Linked DNA regions of Homo sapiens: all the other regions are linked to region 5. Evidence: fine-mapped expression QTL. A gene starts in region 5. Each other region holds a variant in brackets. All regions are shown on one strand. Distances are from middle to middle.

Region 1 (4,081 bases), 71 kb before region 5:
GTGCTAGATAGAGAGGGGTGGGGATCACGGGGAGGGGTTAGATAGAGAGGGGTGGGGATCACGGGGAAGGTTCTAGATAGAGAGGGGTGGGGATCACGGGGAGGGGGCTAGATAGAGAGGGGTGGGGATCACGGGGAAGGTTCTAGATAGAGAGGGGTGGGGATCACGGGGAAGGTTCTAGATAGAGAGGGGTGGGGATCACGGGGAAGGTGCTAGATAGAGAGGGGTGGGGATCACGGGGAGGGTTCTAGATAGAGAGGGGTGGGGATCACGGGGAGGGTTCTAGATAGAGAGGGGTGGGGATCACAAGGAGGGGGCTAGATAGAGAGGGGTGGGGATCACGGGGAGGGGGCTAGATAGAGCCCCAGGGGCTCCCTCCCGCAGCTCCTCCAAGTGGAACCCAGGGCTCAGGTCTGGGGGAAGGTGCCCTCACACCAGATAACGGCCCCACAGGGGCTCAGGGATGCCTGCACCAGGAGGCCCTGCTCCCTCCCTGGAGATGCCAGATCCAGCTCTGCCAGGCTCTGCTCTGGGGCCCTGGTGACTGAGGCTGTGCTGACAGGAATCCGGCGGGAGAAGCCCAGGGCCGCTGGGAAGGTGTGGAGGGGCCCCAAGCAGCCCTCGAACCCCAGGCCCACCCGGCATCTTGTGAGCGGCTCAGTGGGTGCCCACCTGTCTGTGCACCAGCAGCAGGTCCATGCCGCCCAGAATCTGCTTCTCCACATGGGCCAGGGCGGGGCAGGACGTGCCCAGTTTTTGCAGGTCCCCCACCATCCCGTAGCCTGTGGGCAGGAACCATCGTGGGAGGGGCGCCTGCAGGCAGGGACCGCACTGTCCCCTGACCCCAGGGTGCACCCAGCACCCTCCCCGGGGCACACGGAGGGAAGGGTCAGGCAGGGGTGCGGGCTGCTTTCTTTCTGGACTGGGCAGGGGGCCCCAGGGCTTCACTCACCCAGCTTGGTGATAGAGGGGTCCGAGAGGAGCTGGGCCACCAGCCGGGAAAAGGCCTGGGCTCCCTGCCCTGTTGGTGGCTGCGAGAGTGCCAGGACGTCCAGAAGGAACACGTGGCCCTCCACGGCCACCTGCAGGAGTGACGGCCGAGGCCGGCCCCCAGCAACAAACACAGGTGTCCACTCCACGTCTACACCAACCACTTGGTGGCACTGCGGGCAGAGAGGGGCAGATGTGATCATCAGGGCCAACTTGGCTCTGCAGGGACCACAGCCTGGAGGTCCTGAGCAGCTCTGTGAGCTTGGGCTTCGGGGAGACGCCCCTGCACCCCTGCATGTTTATAGGGCTGGGGCTGTTGGGGGCACTAAGGCCTGTGCTCCAGCTGCCCCCTGCTTTCTGTGGCTGCACCAGAGAGGGAGGCCTGGCTGTTGTGAGCAAGAGCCTGGCCTGGTGCCCACGGCAGTGCCCGTGTCAGGGAGGCACCCCACGTCTCGGGCACCATCTGTAAAATGGGGATTCCACGGCACCTTCCACAGGCTGGCAGCACTGGGTAAATGCCAGCAGCCAGCATCCTGGAGTCTCAGCAGCACAGTGTGGGGAACGGCTGCCCTCACAGCAGCCCTGGGGCACCTGGCGGGCTCATGCCCAGAGGCCTTGCCTCTCTCCGAATGCCATGCCCCTGATGCTCCTCCAGTGCCTGGCAGGGGGATCCCACCACCGGGCGCTGCCCCAGCGGCCGAGGGAACCACCTGCAGGAGTGCACCCTCGTGTCTGGTCAGGTCTTCCCACGAGGCCAGGAGGTGGACGTTCTCCCTGGGGATGGGCAGCTGGTAGTAACGGTCCTTCATGTCCTTCACCTCCAGCCTCGAGTCAGCCTCAGTCGCCCTGGGAGGAGCAGAGCTGGTAGCGCCCCCATGTCCCTGGTCCCCCACCCACTCTGACCTCGGAGCAGGAGGGGAGCATTCAGGGCCTGTTTGGTGGGGGCATCTCAGGTCCTGGCTCCTCCTCCCACACCGGCTCAGTCCAGCCCAGC[G/A]TGACCCTTGCTCCTGCCTCTCCTCCCAGTGGCCCTGGTGACTGTCCCCCCAGGGTCCCTCATGGGTCGGGCTGGCCATGGATCTGGCAGCAGAGGAGGAGGGCTGGGCCCTGCTGTCTTGTCTGCTCTGTGTATAGCTGCGCTCTTTGTTTTGTCTTGATTTCTAATTCTCAAGCCACTGGCGTGAAGACTGGTGAGCTGTCGTCCCAAGGGTAGGGGCCACCCTGGGCGGAACCCACCCCTGGCTGGGGTCACCCTGGCGGCGCTCACCTCCCCTGGAGCCTGAACCGGCGGAGTTCCACAGCCACCGCAGCCGGCAGCCGCTCCTCGGGCAGCAAGAGTTCCATGGCACACTGGGCGGCCGTGACTGGGTCACTGTGGGAGACCAGCAGCTGAGACAGCTGCTCCTGAAGCCACGGGCTCTGCCCCACCAGGCCCTGTGAGGAGGGTGGCCGTGAGGATGGAGATGGGGACATTGCTGTGCCACAGGGCCCTGCCCCGAGGGACCCCCGTAGACCCCGACCTTGCAGACTGGCTATGAGCACTCGGGGAGGAGGGGCAGCCGTCCACCTGAGGCCTGCAGCATCTGTCCTGCCTGAGGTCAAGGTTCCACAGGACCAAAGCGGCTGAGATAGAGGTGCTGAGGCAAAGGCTGTCCACCCCAGTGTAGCCCCGGCTGGCCTTCCGGGTCTCCAAGCCTGAGGTGAAGGCTGCCCACCTCAGTTCAGCCCCAGCTGGCCCCTCCTGGCCTCCAAGCCTCCGCTGACCTTCCCGGCCTCCAAGCCTCCACCGGCCCTCCTGGCCTCCAAGCCTCTGCTGACCTTCCTGGCCTCCAAGCCTCCACCAGCCCTCCTGGCCTCCAAGCCTCCACTGACCTTTCCAGCCTCCAAGCCTCCACTGGCCCTCCTGGCCTCCAAGCCTCCACTGACCTTCCCGGCCTCCAAGCCTCTGCCGGCCCTCCTGCTCTCACCAGGCATCTGCCCCCACCCCGGGTCCCAGGAGCCCGGGCATGTTTTCTGGAGCACCTGCCCAGCCTGCCCCATCTCCACGCTCCTCCTCTTGCCAGGGGAGCCCCTCTGCCCCTTCCCCTCCTCCTCATTATGTGGGGTTTGGCTGGCAGGGCTCAGGAGGCTATTGGGCACCCATTCACCCATGGCCCAGGAGCAGACAGAGGGGTGCCCTCTGGGTGGCAATGACCAAGGGGGTCCTGAGAAACCTCATCCTCACCAGGGTGAGCTCTCTCCCACCCCGCAGCCACCGTGGCAGCGCCCAGCCCAGGAGCAGAGGCACCTACAGGCCTGCGGGACCCTCAGCCCCCGCTGGGAAATGCAGGGCCCAGCACAAGCGAGGGTCTCCCTCCCCGCAAGGTCCTGGAGTCCATGGGTCCAGGATGGCCTTGAGTGTCAGGCGGGAAGGGAGGGGACCTGCCCAGCAGGCTGAGCTCCTGCACGACCTCCCACCCCACGGCCTCGAGGAGGGTCCGCCTGCCCCGCTGGCTTCAGGCCCAGCAGCCTGAGGCTGCTTCCCCGGCGTGGGTTCCCACGTGGACGACAATACGTGGAAGCCGCCCGCATTCTTCAGGACGTCCGCTGCCCTTCCGGCCGGCTCTGCGCTGGCACCGGGCTGGGGGGGCCTGGCCTTCCTCCTTCCGGCCTCGCCCAGGCGCCTTGCACCTCTCTGGTGACTCTCAGCCCCCACCCGGCCCCACAGGCAGCTCCGCTGGGTTGGTTCGGGTGGCACGGACGCTGCCGTCTGCCTGGAACGAGGCCCAGTCAGGCTCTACTGATGCCCTCGGCTCCCGCTCAGGCCTCCCGGGCCTGAGGACCCTACACCCGCCTGCCAGCCACACGCCCCAACATGGGGTCTGGGCTCAGCAGCCCCAGCGAAGGCCTCAGCTCTGCGCACTTCCACCAGGAGGCTCCGGGCCTGTGCCCCTAGGACAGCCGCCCAGGCCGCCCTGCCGGCTTACAGGCAAGGGCACGAACTCACCTGCACATGGTCGGTCCAGTTCTCCTGTGACAGGCTCTTCTGCAAAGGCAAACAGGAAGGGGCGGTTGCCAGGCAGCTCCAGAGGCTGTATCGGGGCCTGGTGGGAGT
Region 2 (4,082 bases), 53 kb before region 5:
GGCTGGCCACACAGCCTGGGTCCCAGGGCCTTGCTCGGGGATTGCTGATGAGCCAGAGGAAGGCTAGGAGGTGGGGTCAAGGCAAGGCGCAAAGCCGTGACCTCCCACACGACCCATCTGCGGGCCCCAGAACACAATGGTGCCTGCAGTGGACGGGCCAAGGCTGAGGACCCCCAGCCTCAGCGCATCCTGAGGCCTGGGGGGTCCTAGCCCTTCCCACGAGGCGGAGACGGGCACCCCGCGAGCGCTCCAAGGCCACACTGGCTGCGATCGGGGCACGGCCGGGCCCTGACCGCCTGCACGTACCACGGGCCTGAGCTGCTATTAATAATTTCCATAAGCCGCGCTCCCATAGCCAGCAAAAATGACCCACGAGAGCAGCCCGCGGAGCATCGGCGCCCCGCCCCCGCGCAGCCCAGAGAAAGGACCAAAATAGCGGCCTGGGAAAGCCTCGAGCCGGCTTCCAGCCCCGGTGCGCAGGGTGGGGGCGCAGGGCCGGGGGCCTTTCCCTGCGCAGCGCTGACCCGGCGCCTCTACTGTCTGGCCAGGGTCCAAGAGGCTAGGCCTCCACCAGGCCCATGGGGCGCAGGGCCCGGGGCGGGGGTCTCAGGGCCGTGGGGAGGGGCGAAGGTCCGGGGCGGGGCCCCAGGGCTGTGGGCAGGGGCGCCTGGCCCGGGAAGGGAGTCTCAGGCCCGTGAGGAGGGGCACAGGGCCGGGGGACGGGGTGCAGTGCCCGGGGCGGGGTGGGGGGGCTTCTCAGAGCCGTGTGGGGAGGGGCGCAGGGTCAGGGGAAGGGACGCAGGACCCGGGGAGGGGGTCTCAGGGCCGTGGGGAGGGGCGCAGGGCCCGGGGCGTGGGAGTCTCGGAGTCGTGGGGAGGGGCGCAGGGCCGGGGCGGGGCCTCAGGGCCGTGGGAAGGGGCGCAGGGCCGGGGAGGGGCACGGGGCCACCACATGGGGAGGGGCGCAGGGCCTGGGAGGTGGGCTTACGGCTGTGAGCATGGGCGCAGGGGCCACCACATGGGGACCACCCCAGCAGTGACACCCGCAGCTTCACACAAGGGCTCTGATCCCTTCTGGATCAGGGACCCCCTGAGAAGCTGCCAGAGCTCCGGAAGGCAGGGGTGCAGGGCCGGACACCTCACCCCGTTCAGAACCGCAGGGTGGTCACAACCCGCCCGCCCTCTGCTCCTCCTGCCGCATGTGGTTATTGTCAGGTGCAGGGAAGTGGAGGATGGGGCTGCGCCCGGCACCTCCTTGGGACCAGGCCCTGAGCAGGTGACGCTGGGACCAGGGAGGCTGGGGACACAGCAAGGGGCAGGTGGCCAGGGCCTTCCCTCACCGCTGCTGTCCCCAGCCTCCCTCCGAGGGACAGACTTCAGGCTCCAGTCCCAGCCCTCGGCGGGCCCCACCCAACCAGGAACCCCTCTGAGCCCAAGAAGGCCGCCTCAGGCTTGCAGAGGAGCCTGGGTGGGGCTGGGTACTGGCCGTGCTCCCCAGGTGGGTGGCTTCTGCCTCTGTGTCCCGCACGCTGCGACCCCGTCAGAGGCAGTTCAAAGTGCCCAGCTCAGCCCTTCTCTTCACCACGGCCATTCAGAGCCCAGGGCTAACAGGTGTCTGGACCTTTCTTTCTAGGCCCACAGAAGCTCTCTGGGCACCCGGGGCCTCTTGAGGCCAGGTGGGCTTTCTGGACATGCAGGCGTCCTGGGGCCCCCAGCATCTGTGTCCACATTTTGTACCCGGAGCCCAGTGGGGGCTCTGTGGCCTCGCAGCTTGGGGGACAGGACGAGGATGGAGCTCCCCTAGCTCCACCCTGGTAAGGGCAGAGCCCAGGCTTGCTCATGGGCAGCCCTGGTGACAGGGGTGGGGGGCTGGGGGGTGGCTAGTAGCAGACCCACCCCTTCCAGGAAGCTCCCTGGCCTGACCCCTGTCTCAGGCTTTGGGGGCCCTGCTGGCCCTTTCACTGTGGTGGTGCCTGGCTTAGAATCAGCGTCTGGTCATTTCTGTCTGAACTTCCCTGAGAGGACGGTGTACAGCTGCCCACTGTCCATGCCTGGCCACTTGGGAAACTCAGCAGGCACAAAAAGGTCACCTGGCCCCAGAGCCAGGCCCAGGGA[G/A]CAGACAGCAGAAGGTGAAGAGTCCTGGACCCCGTGGGAGGAACGAGCCCGGGGCTGGGCCATGAGGACAGATGGGGCAAACTGGGCCCCTCTGCACCAGGCAGACCTTCCCGACCTCTGCTGCCAGAGGATGGGAGGCATCCACCAGGAAGAGAGAGACGAGGCTGTCCAGCTGGCGGGGTCGGGGTGGGGCTGTAGAAACCTCTAGACAGGCCCAGGAGCTGCTGCTTTCAGGAAAAAAAAAAAAAAAAGAAAATCAGGAGGGGCTGTGGTATCGACCATCGGGAAGGGCATTCCCCGGCTCCCCTGGGCCCCCCATTCTAAGGGGCAGGAAGGCTGGGCAGGTGCCCAGGCTCGAAGGCCGAGGACCCCAGCGACAGCCCTGCCTCCCACCTCTGCGTGGGCCTGGAGCCAAGAGGGCCTTTTTTTTTTTTTTTTTTTTAAAGCAAAGCTATCTTTTTACCTTGATAAGCTGTTTAAAAAATGTAAATAAAATAACTCAGCGGACAAAAGCAGGCATTCATCCTGCCCAGGGCCAGCCGCTGCCCTCGACATGAAATATCGCAGCACATTGAGTCGTGAGTCCCAGCTAATCCGAGCGGACAGGCCTGAATGCGGCCTCTTTCGGCCGGGCGCGGCGGTGAGCAGTGGAGCATGCATCGCCTGCCGGGCGGCCCCGCTCGGGGACAATGGCTTTCTTCGCAGAAGGGGCCTGTGCGGGACAAGACCCCCTTTGTGTGGGGATTCCTGCCTCGGAGCGCGAGGGAGGCGCATTCAGCCGGCCCCAGACAGTCTTTGAAAGGCTCTGTAACAGAAGACGGCCCGAAACACTAGCCTGCCTTCTGCCTCCCTGCACTCTCCGCAGGCACGGCCGCCATTCAGCGTCGCGCCACATGAGGGGGACCCTCCATCCTGCATTGTCCTGTGCCGGGACATGGTGGCTTCTCAGCGCCATGCACCCGCCGCGAGACGACGGCCCCGGGCGTGGCAGGTGACAGCGCCAGGGGTGGGGCCCGCGCGGCCCACACAGGGGACACTCCTGTGAGGGCCCGGCCAGGGCAGCCCCCGATGCCCGTGCCCAGGTTCCAATGCACCTCCTCACGGTGAGGGGTCTTGCTGGGAAGAGGAACCCAGGGTGCCATCGGGACGGCGTCTCAGCAGCAGGGTCCCACGTGGGCAGGCAGCGGGGTGGTGGCCTTCACGCTCGGCCCTGAAGTAAGGGGGCCCTAATGGGGCGGGGAGTGGACCAGTGCCCCTGAGTGCCGGCCTCCTCATACATGATCAGTGCACCCTGAGCTGAGCACCCCCAGGCCAGGCACCCCCGGGGCTGGGCACCCCCAGGCAGGACACCCCTGGGCCAAGCACCCCCGGGCCGAGCACCCCCAAGCAGGACATCCCCTGGCAGGACACCCCCGGGCTTCTTTGCCGCACCTCGTGCTGCACCCTAGAATCTGCACTGGGATCTGGAATCTCAGGGCACCGAGAAGTCATGGGGGCTCCCCTGCACCTGCAGGAACAGCTCAGAGCCACCCCACGCAAGACGGCCGCCTCCCTACCCACTGCAGGCCCCACTGCTCCCTACTGTTCCACACAAACCCAAGTCACAGCTTGGCCAGGCTCAGGACGACGGGGCTGTGATGCTAGACCTGGTCTTCCTCTTGGAACCTTCTGGGCTTAAAAATCAGCCTTGTTCACAAAGGAGACTCAGCAAACCACTGTGATTCCAACAGCTCCACCAATTCTCATCCAGACACCTTTAGCTGCCAAGCCCACACTTCTGCGACACCACTTAAGACCTGGCCCGGGACCGAAAGGGACCGAAGCCACCTCTCCCGCCAGCAGCCAGTGAAGGGTTGGATACTGATCCGACGCATCTCGCACCTGGGCGACTGTGCCGAGGTGCGACTGGTGCCCTGGCCCTGAACCTTGTCCTGTGTCCCAGGCGCCGGCACTGCCCACTCTGGGCT
Region 3 (4,082 bases), 24 kb before region 5:
CAGATCCAGACCAAGCCCGTGAAAGCTGGAGAAGGTTGAGTCCCACCCAGCTTAGGAGGCTTGAGAAAGGCCCTAGGCTCTCCGAAGAGCCCCTGACAAAACATCAAGACACAACCCCAAGTTCAAGGGACTCAGCCAGAAGCTGAACAGCCCACCGGAGCGAAAAACAATGCTCTTCAGAGGATGATACCTAAATCCAGAGTTTCCACAATGGATAATTCACGAAACTCAGCACGTAATAAAAATCACAAGACCTAAAAAGAAACAAGGAAATATGACCCATAAACAAGTGGAAAAACACAAAAAACAGAGAACAGAAAGCAACTTCGAGGAAGGCCTCAAAGTTATTGGTGTTAGCAAAGACTTTAACACAACGATTTCAACTGCGTTCACAGAATGAACAGAAAACATGTTCAAACAGTTCAAGGAGGCCGAGTGCAGTGTGGGAGGCTGAGGCGGGAGGATCACTTGAGCCCAGGAGTTTGAGACCATCCTAGGCAACATGGTCAAACTGTACAAAAAAATTAAAAAGTAGCCGGGTGTGGTGGCTCACGCCTTTGGTTCCAGCTACTCAGCAAGCGGAGGCAGAAGAGTCGCTGGAAGCCCAGAGATCAAGGCTGCAGTGAGCCGAGATCGCACCACTGCCTTCCAACCTGCATGACAGAGCGAGACCCTGTCTCAAGAAAACCCCAAAAAACCATGAATAAAGTTAAAAAATATGGTTTTAATGAGTAAAAGGAGAGAAATGAAGATTATATGAAACTACATAAAAGAGCTAAATGGAAACTCGGCAATAAAAAGTGTCATCACTGAAATGTGTTTGACTCAGTGGCTGTGCTTCACAGCAGGTGGATGGCAGATGAGTCAGTGAATCTGAAAACAGATCAAAGAAGGACCAGATTGAAAGAACGAGGGGGAAAGACAGAAGGAACTGTGGCTCCACGGTCCACAGCCGGGCGCCCTCTGTTCCCCTGGTGAACGGCCCCGTCTGCAGCACTGCACGCCTGGCTCTGGGGTTCACACGCTTTGTGGAGACACCCATTCCCCAGCCTCTGCCTGCCTCCGTCTGGATGGCTGCACTGCAGCCCTGCTCACCCTGGACCCCCTTCCCTCTTGTCCCCTGTGCTCCCCGAAGTTCACCTCCTAGTTCTAAGGGAGCACCTTTTCCAGGAGCACCTCAGGCAGAACCGCAAGGGAGGAGCACTGAGTAGCCCTTTGCTTGTCTGAGAACGTCCCCATGACACATGTGCACCCATGTCCCCAAGACACACAGGCAACCGCGTCCCCAAGACACACAGGCAACCGCGTCCCCAAGACACACAGGCAACCGCGTCCCCAAGACACACTGGCACCCGCGTCCCCAAGACACACAGGCACCCGCGTCCCCAAGACACACAGGCGACCGCGTCCCCAAGACACACAGGCACCCACGTCCCCGTGACACACGTGCACCCGCATCCCCAAGACACACAGGCACCCGCGTCCCCGAGACACACAGGCACCCGCGTCCCCGTGACACACAGGCACCCGCGTCCCCGTGACACACAGGCACCCGCGTCCCCGTGACACACGTGCACCCGCATCCCCAAGACACACAGGCACCCGCGTCCCCGTGACACACATGCACCCGCGTCCCCAAGACACACAGGCAACCGCGTCTCCGTGACACATGTGCACCCGCGTCCCCAAGACACATCCCCAAGACACACAGGCAACCATGTCCCCGTGACACGCGTCCAACATCCTCGTAACACGTGCACACCGACATCCCCGTGACATACACAGACTGTCCCTGTGGCACAGGCGCATCCACGTCCCCATGACACACGCACACTGCACCTCCACTGGAAGCCTGGCTGTGCGTGGCTGTGGGGCAGGGGTCATTCTCCTGACGGTCATGGTAACGCCCCTCTACTGTCTTCTAGCCTCAGGGGTTGCTGAGAAATCTGATGCCCCCTGACTCGAGTGCCAGCATCTTCTGGGGAGACCCCGGGGCCGTGGCCGGATCCCAGCAGGACGGACATGGTGTGGTCCCCTGGGGGCTCCGTGGCCACCCTTCTGCATGTGGCTTCCCGATGGTGTCCTGCCCTCCACGCCCTCAGTTCTGTCCTCAGGAACTCCTGCTGTTTAGAACTTACACTTCCTGAGAATTACTTTGTCTTCTCATCTTTCCTTCTCTGCCTTTTTGGGAGATTTCCTGAACTTTATTTTGCAACCCTCTCACTGAAAG[G/T]TTCATTTCTGCTATCACAAATTTAATACTATCCACGAGTTCTGGTTTTCTGAAGCTTTTTACAAGGGTCTCCTCTCTTATTCCTGGCTTCTCTTCCTAACCCCCATATTAGTTCATTTTCACGCTGCTGATAAAGACATACCTGAAACTGGGAACAAAAAGAGGTTTAATTGGACTTATGGTTCCACATGGCTGGGGAGGCTTCAGAATCATGGTGGGAGGCGAAAGGCGCTTCTTACATGGTGGTGGCAAGAGAAAATGAGAGCCGGGTACAGTGGCTCACTCCTGTAATGCCAGCACTTTGGGAGGCTGAGGCGGGCAGTTCACCTGAGGTCAGGAGTTCATGACCAGCCTGCCAACATGGCGAAACCCTGTCTTTACTAAAAATACAAAAAGCAGCCAGGCGTGGTGGTGGTGCCTCCCAGGTACTCAGGAGGCGGAGAAAGGCGAATCACTTGAACCTGGGAACAGGGGTTGCAGTGAGCTGAGACTGCACCATTGCACTCCAGCCTGGGTGACAGAGCAGAACTCCATCTCAAAAAAAAAAAAAAAAAAAGAAAATGAGGAAGAAGCAAAAGAGGAAACCTCTGATAAACCCGTCAGATCTCATGAGACTTACTCACTATCAGAAGAATAGCATGGGAAAAACTGGCCCCCATGATGTAATTACTCCCCCTGGGTCCCTCCCATAACGTGGGAATTCTGGGAGATACAATTCGGGTTGAGATTTGGGTGGGGACACAGCCAAACCACATCATTCCGTCCCGGCCCCTCCAAATCTCACGTCCTCACATTTCAAAACCAATCATGCCTTCCCAACAGTCCCTCAAAGTCTCAACTGATTTCAGCATTAACCCAAAAGTCCACAGTCCAAAGTCTGATCTGAGACAAGGCAAGTCTCTTCCGCCTATGAGCCTGTAAAATCAAAAGCAAGTTAGTTACTTCCTAGATACAATGGGGGTACAGGTATTCAGTACATACAGCCATTCTGGGCCGGGCATGGTGGCTCATTCTTATAATCCCAGCACTTTGGGAGGCCGAGGAGGGTGGATCACCTGAGGTCGGGAGTTTGAGACCAGCCTGACCAACATGGAGAAACCCTGTCTCTACTACAAATACAAAATTAGCCGGGCGTGGTGGCACCCACCTATAGTCCCAGCTACTTGGGAGGCTGAGGCAGGAGAATCACTCGAACCTGGGAGGTGGAGGTTGCAATGAGCCGAGATCGCGCCATTGCACTCCAGCCTGGGCAACAGAGCGAGACTCCATCTCAAAAAAAAAAAAAAGTTCCAAATGGGAGAAATTGGACAAAACAAAGGGATTACAGGGCCCACGCAAGTCTGAAATCCAGAAGGGCAGTCAAATTTTAAAGCTCCAAAATGATCTCCTTTGACTCCAGGTCTCACATCCAGGTCATGCTGATGCAAGAGGTGGGTTCCCATGGTCTTGGGCAGCTCCACCCCTGTGACTCTGCATGGTACAGCCTCCCTCCCAGCTGCTTTCACAGGTGGTGTTGAGTGTCTGCTGCTTTTCCAGGCACATGGTGCAGGCTGTCGGTGGATCTACCATTCTGGCATCTGGATGACAGTGGCCTGCTTCTCACAGTCCCACTAGGCAGTGTCCCAGTAGGGACTCTGTGTGGGGGCTCCCACCCATTTCCTTTTTTTTTTTTTTTTTTTGAGATGGTGTCTCACTCTGTTGCCCAGGCTGGAGTGCAGTGGCGCGATCTCAGCTCACTGCAAGCTCCACCTCCCGGGTTCACACCATTCTCCTGCCTCAGCCTCCCAAGTAGCTGGGACAACAGATGCCCGCCACCACACCCGACTAAATATTTTTGTATTTTTAGTAGAGA
Region 4 (4,082 bases), 35 kb before region 5:
GTGAAGCTGGGCAAGGTGGCTTACACTTGTAATCCCAGCACTTTGGGAGGCTGAGGTGGGTGGGTCGCTTGAGCCCTGGAGTTTGAGACCAGCCTGGGCAAGACAGCAAGACCCCATCTCTACCAAAATAAATAAAATTAGCTGGGCATGGTGGCGCTCCTGAGGTCCCAGCCACTTGGGAGGCTGGGGTGGGAGCATGGCTGGAGCCTGGGAGGTTGAGGCTGCAGTGAGCCCTGATTGTGCCACTGCCCTCCAGCCTGGGGGACAGAGTGAGAACCTGTCAATCAATCCATCCATCAATAAGCAGGGTGTCCTTATTATTCTTTTTAAGTTCTCCAAATCGAGATCCACCTTTCCAGGTGGGAAGTTGGTGATGCCGGCCCTCCTACTCCCCAGTCAGTGTTGCTGGTCTTTGCCCTGCTCAGGTCCTGCTGGTTCTGCCCTCCAGGTGGGCAGGGTCTGCCCCCTCCCACCGACCTGGGCCACTCCAGATTCCCAGGGGACTCCCTGCCTTGACGCTGTGCCCTCAGACAACACCCAGCCGCGCAACACGGCACAGCCCTAGCATCCTACAGAAATATGGGGCAGGCCAGGCCACTTTATGGACTCCACCGTGGCCCCTCAGCCTTGAGAGTCAAAGCCAGGGCCCACCACATCCTCCCAGCCTCCAACCTCCGTGTACCTGGACCCTGCCCCTTGGGCCTGAGGCTGCTTCTCGAGCACCCAGCAGCCTGCCCGGAAGCCCCCTCAGCACCCCTGCTCCCTGCCTGCCTCCCTCAGCACCCCTGCTCCCTGCCTGGCCCCCTCAGCACACCTGCTCCCTGCCTGCCTCCCTCAGCACCCCTGCTCCCTGCCTGGCCCCCTCAGCACCCCTGCTCCCTGCCTGGCCCCCTCAGCACCCCTGCTCCCTGCCTGCCTCCCTCAGCACCCCTGCTCCCTGCCTGCCTCCCTCAGCACCCCTGCTCCCTGCCTGCCTCCCTCAGCACCCCCGCTCCCTGCCTGGCCCCCTCAGCACCCCTGCTCCCTGCCTGCCTCCCTCAGCACCCCTGCTCCGTGCTTGGCCCCCGGCCCTTGCTTCCTGCCTGGCCCCCGGCCCCTACTCCTTGTCTGCCTCCCTCAGCGCCTCTGTTCCCTGCCTGGCCCTCGGCCCCCGCTCCCTGCCTGGCCCCCGGCCCCTGCCCTTCTGCCCCTGTCGCTTCACTGTGGCCTCAACGCTGAGCCCCAGGGCAGTGACCGCCTGGGTCTCCTTCCAGGCCATGGCCGGTGCACGATGGACACTCCACGGTGCCCGCCCCAGCCATTCCAGGGCCAGCCGTGCACACATGGTGCTCACAGCCCACGCAACTGGGGAGCCCTGGGGAGCCCTGAGTCTCTCGGGCCAGAGCTGGAGGGACCCATGGCAGGTGTGGCGGGACAAGTGTCTGCCGTGCCGGGCTCAGACACGGCCATGCTGACACTCATCCCACACAATTGCTGGCTTCCTGTTCATACAACAGAAGAAAAACAGGATGTCCAGGGGCGGCTTCTGTCTGAACGAAGAAGACAAGCGAGCTCTGTGAGCCCCAGGGCTCAGCAGTGAGAGGACAGGGTGCCTGGGAGAGCCCTGGGGGACACACCCCACTCAGCACACAGCACCCCACGCACCCCAACTCAGGGATACCACGCAGGGGCACGGGGTCCGAGAAGGGCGGGTGGGGCTTGGAGCTGACACCGAGGGACCTCCCAGACCCGCTCTCCGGCCCCAGAAGCCCCAGCCAGCCCTCCCTGAGGTCGCCTCCTCGTGCAGTAGCTTCTGGGGGCCTTTGGTCCCCAGCGTGGATGTTTGGCCGGAGCTCCGTGGGTGGCCTCTGGCCCCCACCTCCACACCCAGGCCCAAGTTCCCTGAATTCGCCAAGTTCATCAGTGCTGCACCGATGCCTGGGACCTGCAGACAGGCAGGTCTAGGACGCTGAGACAGATGGCCCTGGCCAGGAGGCTGGGCCCTGACCCTGGACCCTGCCCCTTGGAACCATGTGGGTGGGGGCAGAGCGGGGCAGCTGTGTATTAGGAGGACACCTAGAAAAAACTCAAGCTCAAGAATAAAAGTCCCACAGTCCCCCGAATGTGGATTCACATCCAAGAGCTGGGCTGCTTCTCTCTGGGGGGCTGAATCATGGTCCCTGCCCAGCACCAGAGCCTGGTGCCCACACTGGCTTCCCCCCCAGCCACCCTCCCCAAAACGTGCCTGGGAGGGCTCAGGAACTCTGTGGGGT[T/C]GGCCTGAGGGTGTCCAGGCAGAGGCGGCCAGGACGGCTCCACCATCTGTCCCCAGGACGGCTCCCCAGCTGACACCCCCGCGCCGGCCGACGGGAGGACGGATGGTTGCAGGGACGCAGGATGGGCAGAACACAGGGACGCCACTTCCTCCAAACGACACCCGGCTAATGGGGCTGCCTTCACCTTGAGACACAGACGCACGCGGGAAACTGTGGGCTGTGGAGTGGGTGGCGCCGAAGGCTCTGTTATTCCCGACACTCTACCATAAAGCGGGGATGAGAAACACAGGGGGCTTTTTATCCACAGGGTTGGGGGCACAGAAGCCCCAGGAACTGAGGCCGACCCCAGCAGCGGGCGCCAGGCAGAGGACACCAGGCAGCGGATGCTGGCAGGGGACACCCGGCCTCCAGGCAGGAAGTCTGTGACGTGGTCTTCACAAAGCCCCCGAGTGGGTCTCCCCGGCAGCTGGCTCTCCTCTTGGGGCCTGGGTCACAAAGCTCACAGCCCGTCTCCAAGGCCGTCCCACACCTGCCAGCAGCATCAGACCCCGCGGCAGTGAGTGTAGAAGAGCCCGGCCGCCCAGACCAGACCCCACGCGCTGTGGTGACCTGCATGTCCACGGGTCCAGGCACCTGCTATCAGCACAGCACCCCGCCTGGGTCAGTCCTCTGACCGCCCACGGACAGCAGAAAGGGCCAGCCCACGGCCTCAGCTCCCCTCAGAGACCCCATGGCACCTCCCGCAGGCGTGTCCTGAGAGGCCACGCCCACCCACCACGCACTGGGGCCTCCGTCCCTCTGCCACGAGTCTGTCTCCTGGTGGCCTTCTGGCGTCCGGGGGCAGCTGAGATGGGGCCACCCCCTCCAGCCCAACCGTCTCTGGTCTCAGATTCCACCCACATCTGCCTGTGCTCAGCTGCAGGCAGGGCGGGGGACGTGATAAGGACAGAGGCGGCAACGAGACCCCAAGCCCGGCGGACAGCGTGTGCCCTCCACCTCGGCTCGCCGCAGAGGACCGCCCGTGTCTGGGGAGTGAGGTGAAGGGGCTCCCGGAGGTCCAGCATCTGGCACGGAGCCCCTTGCTCTATCAACACAGCGGCCCACAACCCCAGCACAGCACCGTCTCTCATCGGTCATGGGTCCCCTCACCCTCAGTCCTACTCACTTGCCTCATCCATGAAGCCGAGGGCCTTGGAGACAGAACCTGACCCAGCCTAAGCCCAAGCTGCCTCTGCTGGGAAAGCGGGATGAGGGGGAGAGCCCACCGTTCGATGCTGTGGACCCCACAAGGAGGCAGAGAGGGAAAGGGCGGTACCAGCTCAGGGGGCATGAGGCGGACGCCACTCAGAGACAGTGAGTACGTCGAGGTGCTGGGACGCTCGGAGCGAGAGGGACAGAGAGGGACAGTGAGACCAGCAAGGAGCTGGGACGCTGGGAGCCAGGTGGATGCATGCAGAGAGGGACAGAGAGATCCCCAAATTTCATTCTGCAACCGCAGGTCAGAAAATCTGCTGAAGAAAAGATCCTACCTACAACAGAAATATTGGAAGATGAAATGCCTATTTTTAAAAAGTAACAGACCCGGCACAGTGGCTCATGCCTGTAATCCCAGCACTTTGGGAGGCCGAGGCGGGCAGATCACCTGAGGTCAGGAGTTCGAGACCAGCCTGGCCAACATGGCGAAACCCCGTCTCTACTAAAAATACAAAAATTACCCAAGCATGGTGGTGGGTGCCTGTAATCCCAGCTACTCAGGAAGCTGAGGCAGGAGAATCACTTGAACCTGGGAGGTGGAGGTTGCAGTGAGCCAAGGTTGCGACATTGCACTCC
Region 5 (4,082 bases):
GGGACCTCGCTATGTTGCCCAGGTTGGTCTCAAACTCCTGGGCTCAATGAATCCTCCCACCTTGGCCTCCCAAAGTGCTGGGATTACAGGCATGAGCCACCATGCCCAGCCCTCAAGTGGCTTTTAAAGGTCTATTCTGACCCTCTTGTAGTTCATAAGCATGATGATTGCCTCATGTGTAGGGTCTGTCTCCTTCAAACGCTGTTATGACGCCAGCACATTACCTGTCTGATGTGGGGAAAAAAAGTCTGAAATTCCTTATGGCAAAGTTCCAGCCAGTTTAGAAAGGAGCCTATATGGCCAATCACCACTGTTGTACTTTAGGCAAATAATCAGGCCAAATATAATCCTAAAATTTATTTTACAAGTAAATTGGTCTTACCAAGATTTATCTTTGGTAGAAATGGGGAAGTAGAGAAAAATTATGTTTCAGAGAAAAACTACAGCATACCTGTTACTGGATTCTAGCCCTGATCATTGTATTTTTTATTTTCCTACAATCTGGACTAAATCCTGAACAATCTTCTGGCTACAAGTCTCAAAGAAGAACCTGGCTGGGCAGAGGTTCACACCTATAACCCCAGCACTTTGGGAGGCCCAGATGAGAGGATCACTTGGGCTCAGGAGTTCGAGACTAGCCTGGGCAAGGTGTCAAGACCTAGTCTCTACCAAAAAAATTTAAAATTAGCCGGTCCTGGTGGCAAACACCTGTATTCCCAGGTACTCAGGAGGCTAAGACAAGAGGATCATTTAAGCCCAAGAGTTCAAGGCTGCGATGAGTGGGAATCGTGCCTCTGCACTCCAGCATGGGTGACAGAGCAAGACCCCATTTCTAAGTAAACAAATAAATAAAAAGAAAGAAGAACATGGATTTTAGTTTCTTCATGTTTTTAGTTGTCTCCCTAATGGAACAGGTTTGTTTTTTTCATCCTGGCATACAAATTGGTTATAGTCCTATGTGTTACTTCTGAGAAAATTAAAATTAATGGTGTTTCTAAAAACTAGAGATGATTCAACAGGTGACAGCAGTTGTATAAATTAATGACTTCACTGAGACCTCATGTTTGCCACCCTGTAATGCCATTCCAATTCAGTTTGTGGTGTTCTTAAAAAAAAAAAAAAAAAAAAAACTCCCTGAAATGTCTCCTCCTTCCCTGCTTGGCATGGGACAGGACTATGTGGGAATGAGCCTTCCCAGCAAGAGGGGACACTCTGACCCTCAGATTTTGATAATCAATGCTTTCAAGAAGAAAGATTTTGATCAAAAGGGGGGCAAATGAGAAAGAAAAAAATCATTTATCTGAGGAATGTAAAGCCCTTTTAAACTGTGGGCCCAGAAAGCTTGATGTTAAGTGCCAGAAAGCATTTCAAATGAAACCGCAGCCCCTCACTACCCCTCGAGCCAAGTAACTATCCACTGATGACACCAAGCCGTGGTCAATCGCGAACCAATGCCATTTCTACAAGCCAGTGAGCTCCTGGGCAACGTTCGAAACCACCTGCTCTCCGATGGGCTCTGTTTTCTTTAAAAACCTGAGCCTCTGTTTTGTTCTCCGTTGCACCTGGTGACCCAGGCCGCCCTCGACCTCTGTGCCTGAATAAACCCACCGGGCACCACATTCTGACCCTTTTAATTATTTTAGGTTGACAACTAATACAGGACTCAGCGCCGGTGGACAGGAAGCCAGGGCCCCTGCAGGGAGGCGCCCGTCCCTTCTCCCGGGGAGGGCAGGGCGGGCGCGCGCGCGTCCCACCGGGAGCGCCTCCTCCTCGGCGAGGGAGCGAAGGGCCTCCGGGTCCTGTGATGTCCGTGCTCGGAAGGCGCGGAGGAGGGCAGGCCCTGCGGGACAGGGCGGCGGGGTCGCCGGGGTCGGCTCAGCTCCCCGCGGCGTCCGGCTGCTCGGCGGCCTCCGGAGCGGGGCCCTGCGGGAGAACGCACCTTCCCCGCCCCATCGGGGCCTCAGTTTCCCCACCCCGGGAGAGCCGGCGGCCCGCCCCCGGCTCACTCCCAGCTACGGCCCTCACCTCAGGACGCGCACCCGGCCCGGCCCCGCTCTGCCCCCGGCGCCCAGACCGCCCACCTGGCCCGCGCGGCCCGGGGTCGCTCACCTGCGGGGCCGGGACCGCCCCACACCGTCCACGCCCGGCGCGGAACCTTGGCCCGACCGCAGCCGCTGGCCCGGAGGGCTTTATCCGGCGCACCAAGGCCAGCGCGGGCGGGGCGAGGAAGCCGGGCGCACAAAGCTCCCGGCGGAAGTCCGGCCGGGGCGGGGGCCGAATGGGAGGTGGGCGAGGCCTGAGGGTCTGGAGTGGGCGTAGCCGTTTCTGGCGGGGGCGTGGCCTTACCGGGGAGGGGCGGGCGCCTGCCGCCAGGGGGCGCCGCGGGGCAGCGGGGTTGCACCTGGCGCTTGGCGCCCGCACCTCTGCCCGCCTCGGAGACCCCGCAGCCCCGCGCCGCCGCCTGGCCCCGGCCCCGGCCCCTCCGCGGGATCCTGGCCCCTCCTCGAGCGCCGCCACCGGCCGCCATGGCCTCTCTGGGGGACCTGGTGCGCGCCTGGCACCTGGGCGCGCAGGCTGTGGATCGTGGGGACTGGGCCCGCGCCTTGCACCTCTTCTCGGGCGTCCCGGCGCCGCCCGCCAGGCTGTGCTTCAACGCGGGCTGCGTGCACCTGCTGGCCGGGGACCCCGAGGCCGCGCTGCGGGTGAGCGGGGCGTGGGGAGGCCGGTGCGGGCGACGCCTCCGCCTCGAGCCCCTGGGGAGGGCCCAGCGCCCCTCCCCGACCGTCACGGGGTCGCCCTGCCGCCCCCGACCCAGCGAACGCCCCGGCAGGTGGGAGCCGAGCAGGGGGGCCGCACCTGAGCTAAGCGAGGCCGCGCTGGGGGGCGCGGCGGTCACCGGGAGAGGCCGGGGCCCGAGGGTGACTCACACCGGGAAGGGGGAAGCTGCTGGGCTGGGTCAGGCCCGAGGGACCGCCCTGCCCTAAGGGGAAAGCGTTGCGCCTGTGGTCATGGCCGGGAGACCGGGTCAGTCTCCTCCTCAGAGCCCTCAGCCCTCCCCCAGCCCACTCCCCGAAACAGCCAGGAGTCCAGGGTGCCAGGGTGCAGCGGCCGAGGCCCTGCACGGAGCCCGGTGCCCTTCTCGTGCCCCCTCGCGTTCCGGGGCCGCCTGTTCCTGCGCATCCCAAACGCCAGCGCTGCCCACCCCCGCTCAGTCCCAAGCACCCCGCAGAAGCAGGCAGGTGCCCACGGTTACTGAAGGCTCGGTGACAGCAGTGATTTAAAGGAGAGGGAACTGCGCGCTGTGGGAGGGTCTCCACGCCCCTGACTGGCAAAATATCCCCCTTGGAGGAGACTGGGCAAAGCGCATGAGACCCCCCTCTCTTGTGTCTTAAAGCTGCGTACAAATTTACAATCACCTCCATAATGATTTCATTTTTTTGTTTGTTTCAAAGATGGAGTCTCGTTCTGTCACCCAGGCTGAATGGAGTGCCGTGGCCCAATCTTGGCTCACTGCAACCTCTGCCTCCCGGGTTCAAGCAATTCTCCTGCCTCAGCCTCCCTAGTTGCTGGGAGTACAGGCGCCCACTACCACGCCTGGCTAATTTAGTATTTTTAGTAGAAACGGGTTTCACCATGTTGGTCAGGCTGGTCTTGAACTCCTGACCTCAGGTGATCCACCCTCCTCGGCCACCCATAGTGGTGGGATTACACATGTGAGCCACCTTGTCCGGCCCACAATGATTTCATTTTAAAATGTTATCCAAGAAAGGGAATGTAATCTTTAGACACCAGGTGGTTCAGCAACAAATCCTATGTCCGGGGCTAACCCAGTCACTTGTGCTCTTGTGCCTGGTTTCACTACAGAGAGGGGACGCAGTGAAAGTCATACGACTAACCCACAGCATATGCATGTTAGGAATATGGGAACTTAGGAAAGCAGATGGAACAGCTATGATTCATAAAGCCGATCACGTGAGGGGCAGCCCAGGGTGCAGAGGGTGTCGCTGGAACTGCTGTCTCTTGTTAGGAGCCTTGCGTGACGTTTGGGGCAGACAGGTGGGTTCTGCTGGCCCTGAGCCGCC
Region 6 (4,082 bases), 42 kb before region 5:
TGAATTTTCAGAGAAGTACTTATTTACAACGGCCAGAGGTGGAGATGGCGCAGATGACCCTCAGCTGTCTATGAAGAAACAGCATGTGGCCTGGCCACGTATTACTCAGCCACGGAAAAGGAGGAAGCTGACACAGACATCCACATAGACAAGCCTTGATATCGTGCTAAATGAAGAAGCAAGTCACAAAAGACCCCATGTTATGTGACCGCATGTGTGTGAACTGTCCAGAAGTGGCAAATCCAGAGGCAGAAAGCGGGTGAGCAGTGGCTAGGGCCTGTGTGACAAGGGGAATGGGGCGTCTGTGTGAGGGGTACAGGGTTTGTGGGTGACGGTGACCGTTGCCTGGGGCCGAGGGGAATGGGGCATCTGTGTGAGGGGTACGGGGTTTGTGGGTGACGGTGACCATTGCCTGGGGCCGAGGGGAATGGGGCATCTGTGTGAGGGGTACAAGGTTCGTGGGTGACGGTGACCGTTGCCTGGGGCCGAGGGGAATGGGGCGTCTGTGTGAGGGGTACGGGGTTTGTGGGTGACGGTGACCATTGCCTGTGGCCGAGGGGAATGGGGCATCTGTGTGAGGGGTACAGGGTTTGTGGGTGACGGTGACCGTTGCCTGGGGCCGAGGGGAATGGGGGCGTCTGTGTGAGGGGTACGGGGTTTGTGGGTGACGGTGACCGTTGCCTGGGGCCGAGGGGAATGGGGCGTCTGTGTGAGGGGTACGGGGTTTGTGGGTGACGGTGACCGTTGCCTGGGGCCGAGGGGAATGGGGGCGTCTGTGTGAGGGGTACAGGGTTTGCGGGTGACGGTGACCGTTGCCTGGGGCCGAGGGGAATGGGGGCGTCTGTGTGAGGGGTACGGGGTTTGTGGGTGACGGTGACCGTTGCCTGGGGCTGAGGGGAATGGGGCGTCTGTGTGAGGGGTACGGGGTTTGCGGGTGACGGTGACCGTTGCCTGGGGCCGAGGGGAATGGGGCGTCTGTGTGAGGGGTACGGGGTTTGCTTCTGAAGCGATGAACCATTCTGAAACCAGAAGAGGTGCACAGGTTGTGAAGATGTAGAAAGATTCACGAAGCACGACTGGGCGCTCCAGGCCATTGAGTCACTCATTGTGAAACGGCTGGTTTTATATGTCGTGCATCTTACCCCAATAAAGCATTCGATGAAGCCGACGCTCCGTGGCTCTGATTTGGGGTGCGCTCTCGCCCAGGCTGGTTTCTGTCACCCCCGGAGTTCTGCAGCACCCGTTCTAACCACAGCCCGCCTTCCCTCACTCCTGCTTCAGTCCCGTAAACCTTCTGCAAAATCCTGGCCCTCCAGACCCCAGCTGGGTCCTCCCCTCCAGGCCCCCAGTGGCAGCTGTGCCCCTTGTGTGCCCACGTCGGCCAGCGCAAGCCACACATGGACCCAGTGCCCACTGCACCCCTGCCAGCCTCAGGGTCCCAGCCCGTTGTTCCGGGAGACTTCAGTCCTGGCCCAGGCATCTCCTTCCAGCTCCTGTCCTTATCTTGGTGGCCTCAATGAACGTGCCAAGACCCTTGGGACCCATGGCTCTGAGACTGGGCTCCCCTTGCGCTGCCTGCCTCCCTCCCGGGGTCCCTGTGAAGGAAGCCGTCCCACCCACCCTGCCGGTCCCTCCTCCCTTCGAGCCCTTCACTGGTCTTCACTCCTCATTCCTGGTCCCCTCAGCTACAAAGAGCCTCCTGCTGTGCACGGAGAAAACAATGTGAGCTCCCCCACCCCAATGCCCCTCTGGGCGTCCCCCCCAATCCCCCTGCCAGTATCCCCCCCCACCCCAACCCCCGTCCGGGCATCCCCCTCAATCCTCCCGCCGGTATCCCCCCTCCTCCCCAACCCCCCTCCAGGCGTCCCCCCCAATCCCTCCGCCAGTATCCCCCGCACCCCAACCCCCCTCCGGGCATCCCCCCCAATCCCCCCACCGGTATCTCCCCCACCCCAACCCCCCTCTGGGCGTCCCCCCCGATAACGCCCACCAGTATCCCCCCTCTGGGCATCCCCCCCAATCCCTCCACTGGTTCCCCCCCACCCCAATGCCCCTCTGGGCATCCCCCCAATCCTCCCCACCCGTATCCCCCCTCCTCCCCAACCCCCCTCTGGGCATCCCCCCCAATCCCCCCGCCGGTATCCCCCTTCCTCCCTGCTGGCTGGCATCCCCTGCACTGAGCTGTTGGCTCCACTCACGGCTTCAGTAGTGGGGCTGGGGGGGTCCCATGGGCTCAGCAGCACCAGAAGGCCCCCCCGAGGGGCTGTTAGGATAGGACCACCCTGTTACAACAGGACCATCTTGGGAAGCCGAGGCAGGTGGATTGCTTGAGGTCAGGAGTTCAAGACCAGCCTGGCCAACATGGTGAAACCC[T/C]GTCTCTACTAAAAATACAAAAATAGCCAGGCGTGGTGTTGCACACCTATTAATCCCAGTTACTCATGAGGCTGAGGCAAGAGAATCACTTGAATCTGGGAGGCGGAGGTTACAGTGAGTCGAGATCATGCCACTGCACTCCAGCCTGGGTGACAGAGCAAGACTCTGTCTCACACACACACACACACACACACACGAAAAGCCTGGGTGCGGTGGCTCACACCTGTAATCCCAGCACTTTGGGAGGCCGAGGCGGGCGGATTACCTGAGGTCAGGAGTTCGAGAACAGCCTGGCCAACATGGTGAAACTCCGTCTCTACTAAAAATACAAAAAAAAAATTAGTCGGGCGTGGTGGCGCGCGCCTGTAATCCCAGCTACTCCGGAGGCTGAGGCAGGAGAATCCCTTGAACCCGGGAGGCGGAGCTTGCAGTGAGCCGAGATTGCACCACTGCACTCCAGCCTGGGTGACAGAACAAGACTCCTTCTCAAAAAAAAAAAAAAAAAAAAAAAAGACAGGAACACCCCACCACAGGCTGCTGGGCAGTGGGGCTGGGAAGGGCCCAATGAACCAGGGGAGCCCCACTCTGGGAGTGCGCCTACTCCAGGCCCTCACCCCGCCCCAGCCCTGCCTCCTCCTCCTGCCCGTCTCCCAGGCTGCTCTCACCCGCCCGGTGTGCTGGCTCCTCTCTCACGTTAGAGGAACACCTAAGCCCTCCCAGACGGCCAACAGTCCCATTGCCCCCTTTATACTGCAGACCGCCCCAAGGAGTTCTCCAAAATCCTGGTCTTCATCTCCCTCCTCTGGGGGCACCCGGCGTCTGTGCCACCATATGGGGGTCCCCAAGACCTCCATGTGCAGCCGGCTCTAGGGTTGGGCTTCTCCTCAGCACCCAGGACCCCCAAGGACCCCATCTTCAAGGCTCCTGGCCCACCCAGGGCCACTGGGCATGTGGCATTCGCCAGCTTGCTGGAATCCGGGAATGTGATGGAGGCGCGAGGAGGAGGTGAGAGCACGAGGAGGAGGTGAGGGCGCAGGGAGGAGGTGGGAGCACGCAGAGGAGGTGAGGACGCGGGGAGGAGGTGAGGACGCGGGGAGGAGGTGAGGGCGCGGGGAGGAGGTGAGGGCGCGCGGAGGAGGTGAGGGCGCGCGGTGGAGGTCAGGGCGGCGGTGGAGGTCAGGGCGGCGGTGGAGGTGAGGGCGCGGGGAGGAGGTGAGGGCGCGGGGAGGAGGTGGGAGCATGCGGAGGAGGTGAGGGCGCGCGGAGGAGGTGAGGGCACAGACACAGGCCCACCCCATGAAGATGAAATGCCTGACGGCCTCATGGCTGTCAGCGGAGCCCGGAGCAGATCTCAGCCCTGTCTGTGTATAAACAAGCGCTGCTCCAAGGAGACGCCAGGACGAATGTCAGGACATAGGGAGGAAAGGACAGTGGAATCCCACAACTCAGACACGTGGGGGGCGGGGGGCAGAGGGCGGGACCCGGGGAGGCTCACACCACACACGCAGGTGCCAAAGAGCGAGGAAGACTGAGCGTCACAGACGAAGGTCCGACAAGAGAGCCTGGAAATGGAACGGCAGAGGGAAATCTCAAAAGCAAGGACAGAGATTCACAAGCTGGAGGCCCAAGAAGCCACCGAGCTGATGGACAAACGAAAGCTGGCAGAGGTGGGTGCAGGAGAGAGGCAGACACAGGAGCAGGCAGCGCCA

Evidence for each region.
Region 1: its variant is fine-mapped to the expression of EXD3 in whole blood (TOPMed, PIP above 0.99).
Region 2: its variant is fine-mapped to the expression of EXD3 in whole blood (TOPMed, PIP above 0.99).
Region 3: its variant is fine-mapped to the expression of EXD3 in whole blood (TOPMed, PIP above 0.99).
Region 4: its variant is fine-mapped to the expression of EXD3 in whole blood (TOPMed, PIP above 0.99).
Region 6: its variant is fine-mapped to the expression of EXD3 in spleen (GTEx, PIP above 0.99). The same link has a PIP of 0.9 or more in pancreas and unexposed skin.

Annotation. Positions count from the first base shown.
Region 1 is chr9:137,350,366-137,354,446 of GRCh38, forward strand. It overlaps EXD3 (exonuclease 3'-5' domain containing 3), which reads right to left. Exons shown (of 22, transcript NM_017820.5): 10 at 3,974-4,012; 11 at 2,255-2,421; 12 at 1,701-1,836; 13 at 953-1,163; 14 at 673-782. Among named protein-coding and RNA genes, the nearest start is that of NRARP, 50 kb to the left of the region's middle. RefSeq lists enhancers at 609-1,118, 1,119-1,627. The variant G/A (reference allele first, on the strand shown) is at 1,985.
Region 2 is chr9:137,368,255-137,372,336 of GRCh38, forward strand. The region is part of intron 5 of EXD3 (exonuclease 3'-5' domain containing 3); the gene reads right to left. Among named protein-coding and RNA genes, the nearest start is that of EXD3, 53 kb to the right of the region's middle. RefSeq lists an enhancer at 1-585 and silencers at 1,289-1,489, 1,971-2,160. The variant G/A (reference allele first, on the strand shown) is at 2,116.
Region 3 is chr9:137,397,263-137,401,344 of GRCh38, forward strand. All of the region lies in intron 1 of EXD3 (exonuclease 3'-5' domain containing 3), which reads right to left. Among named protein-coding and RNA genes, the nearest start is that of EXD3, 24 kb to the right of the region's middle. The variant G/T (reference allele first, on the strand shown) is at 2,231.
Region 4 is chr9:137,386,010-137,390,091 of GRCh38, forward strand. The region is part of intron 2 of EXD3 (exonuclease 3'-5' domain containing 3); the gene reads right to left. Among named protein-coding and RNA genes, the nearest start is that of EXD3, 35 kb to the right of the region's middle. The variant T/C (reference allele first, on the strand shown) is at 2,253.
Region 5 is chr9:137,421,005-137,425,086 of GRCh38, forward strand. EXD3 (exonuclease 3'-5' domain containing 3) reads right to left here and starts at 2,158. Exons shown (of 22, transcript NM_017820.5): 1 at 2,110-2,158. It overlaps NOXA1 (NADPH oxidase activator 1), which reads left to right and starts at 2,389. Exons shown (of 14, transcript NM_001256067.2): 1 at 2,389-2,702. The coding sequence starts at 2,526. It also overlaps the pseudogene LOC124902354. RefSeq lists silencers at 1,750-1,889, 1,900-2,039, 2,060-2,619.
Region 6 is chr9:137,378,555-137,382,636 of GRCh38, forward strand. All of the region lies in intron 3 of EXD3 (exonuclease 3'-5' domain containing 3), which reads right to left. Among named protein-coding and RNA genes, the nearest start is that of EXD3, 43 kb to the right of the region's middle. The variant T/C (reference allele first, on the strand shown) is at 2,374.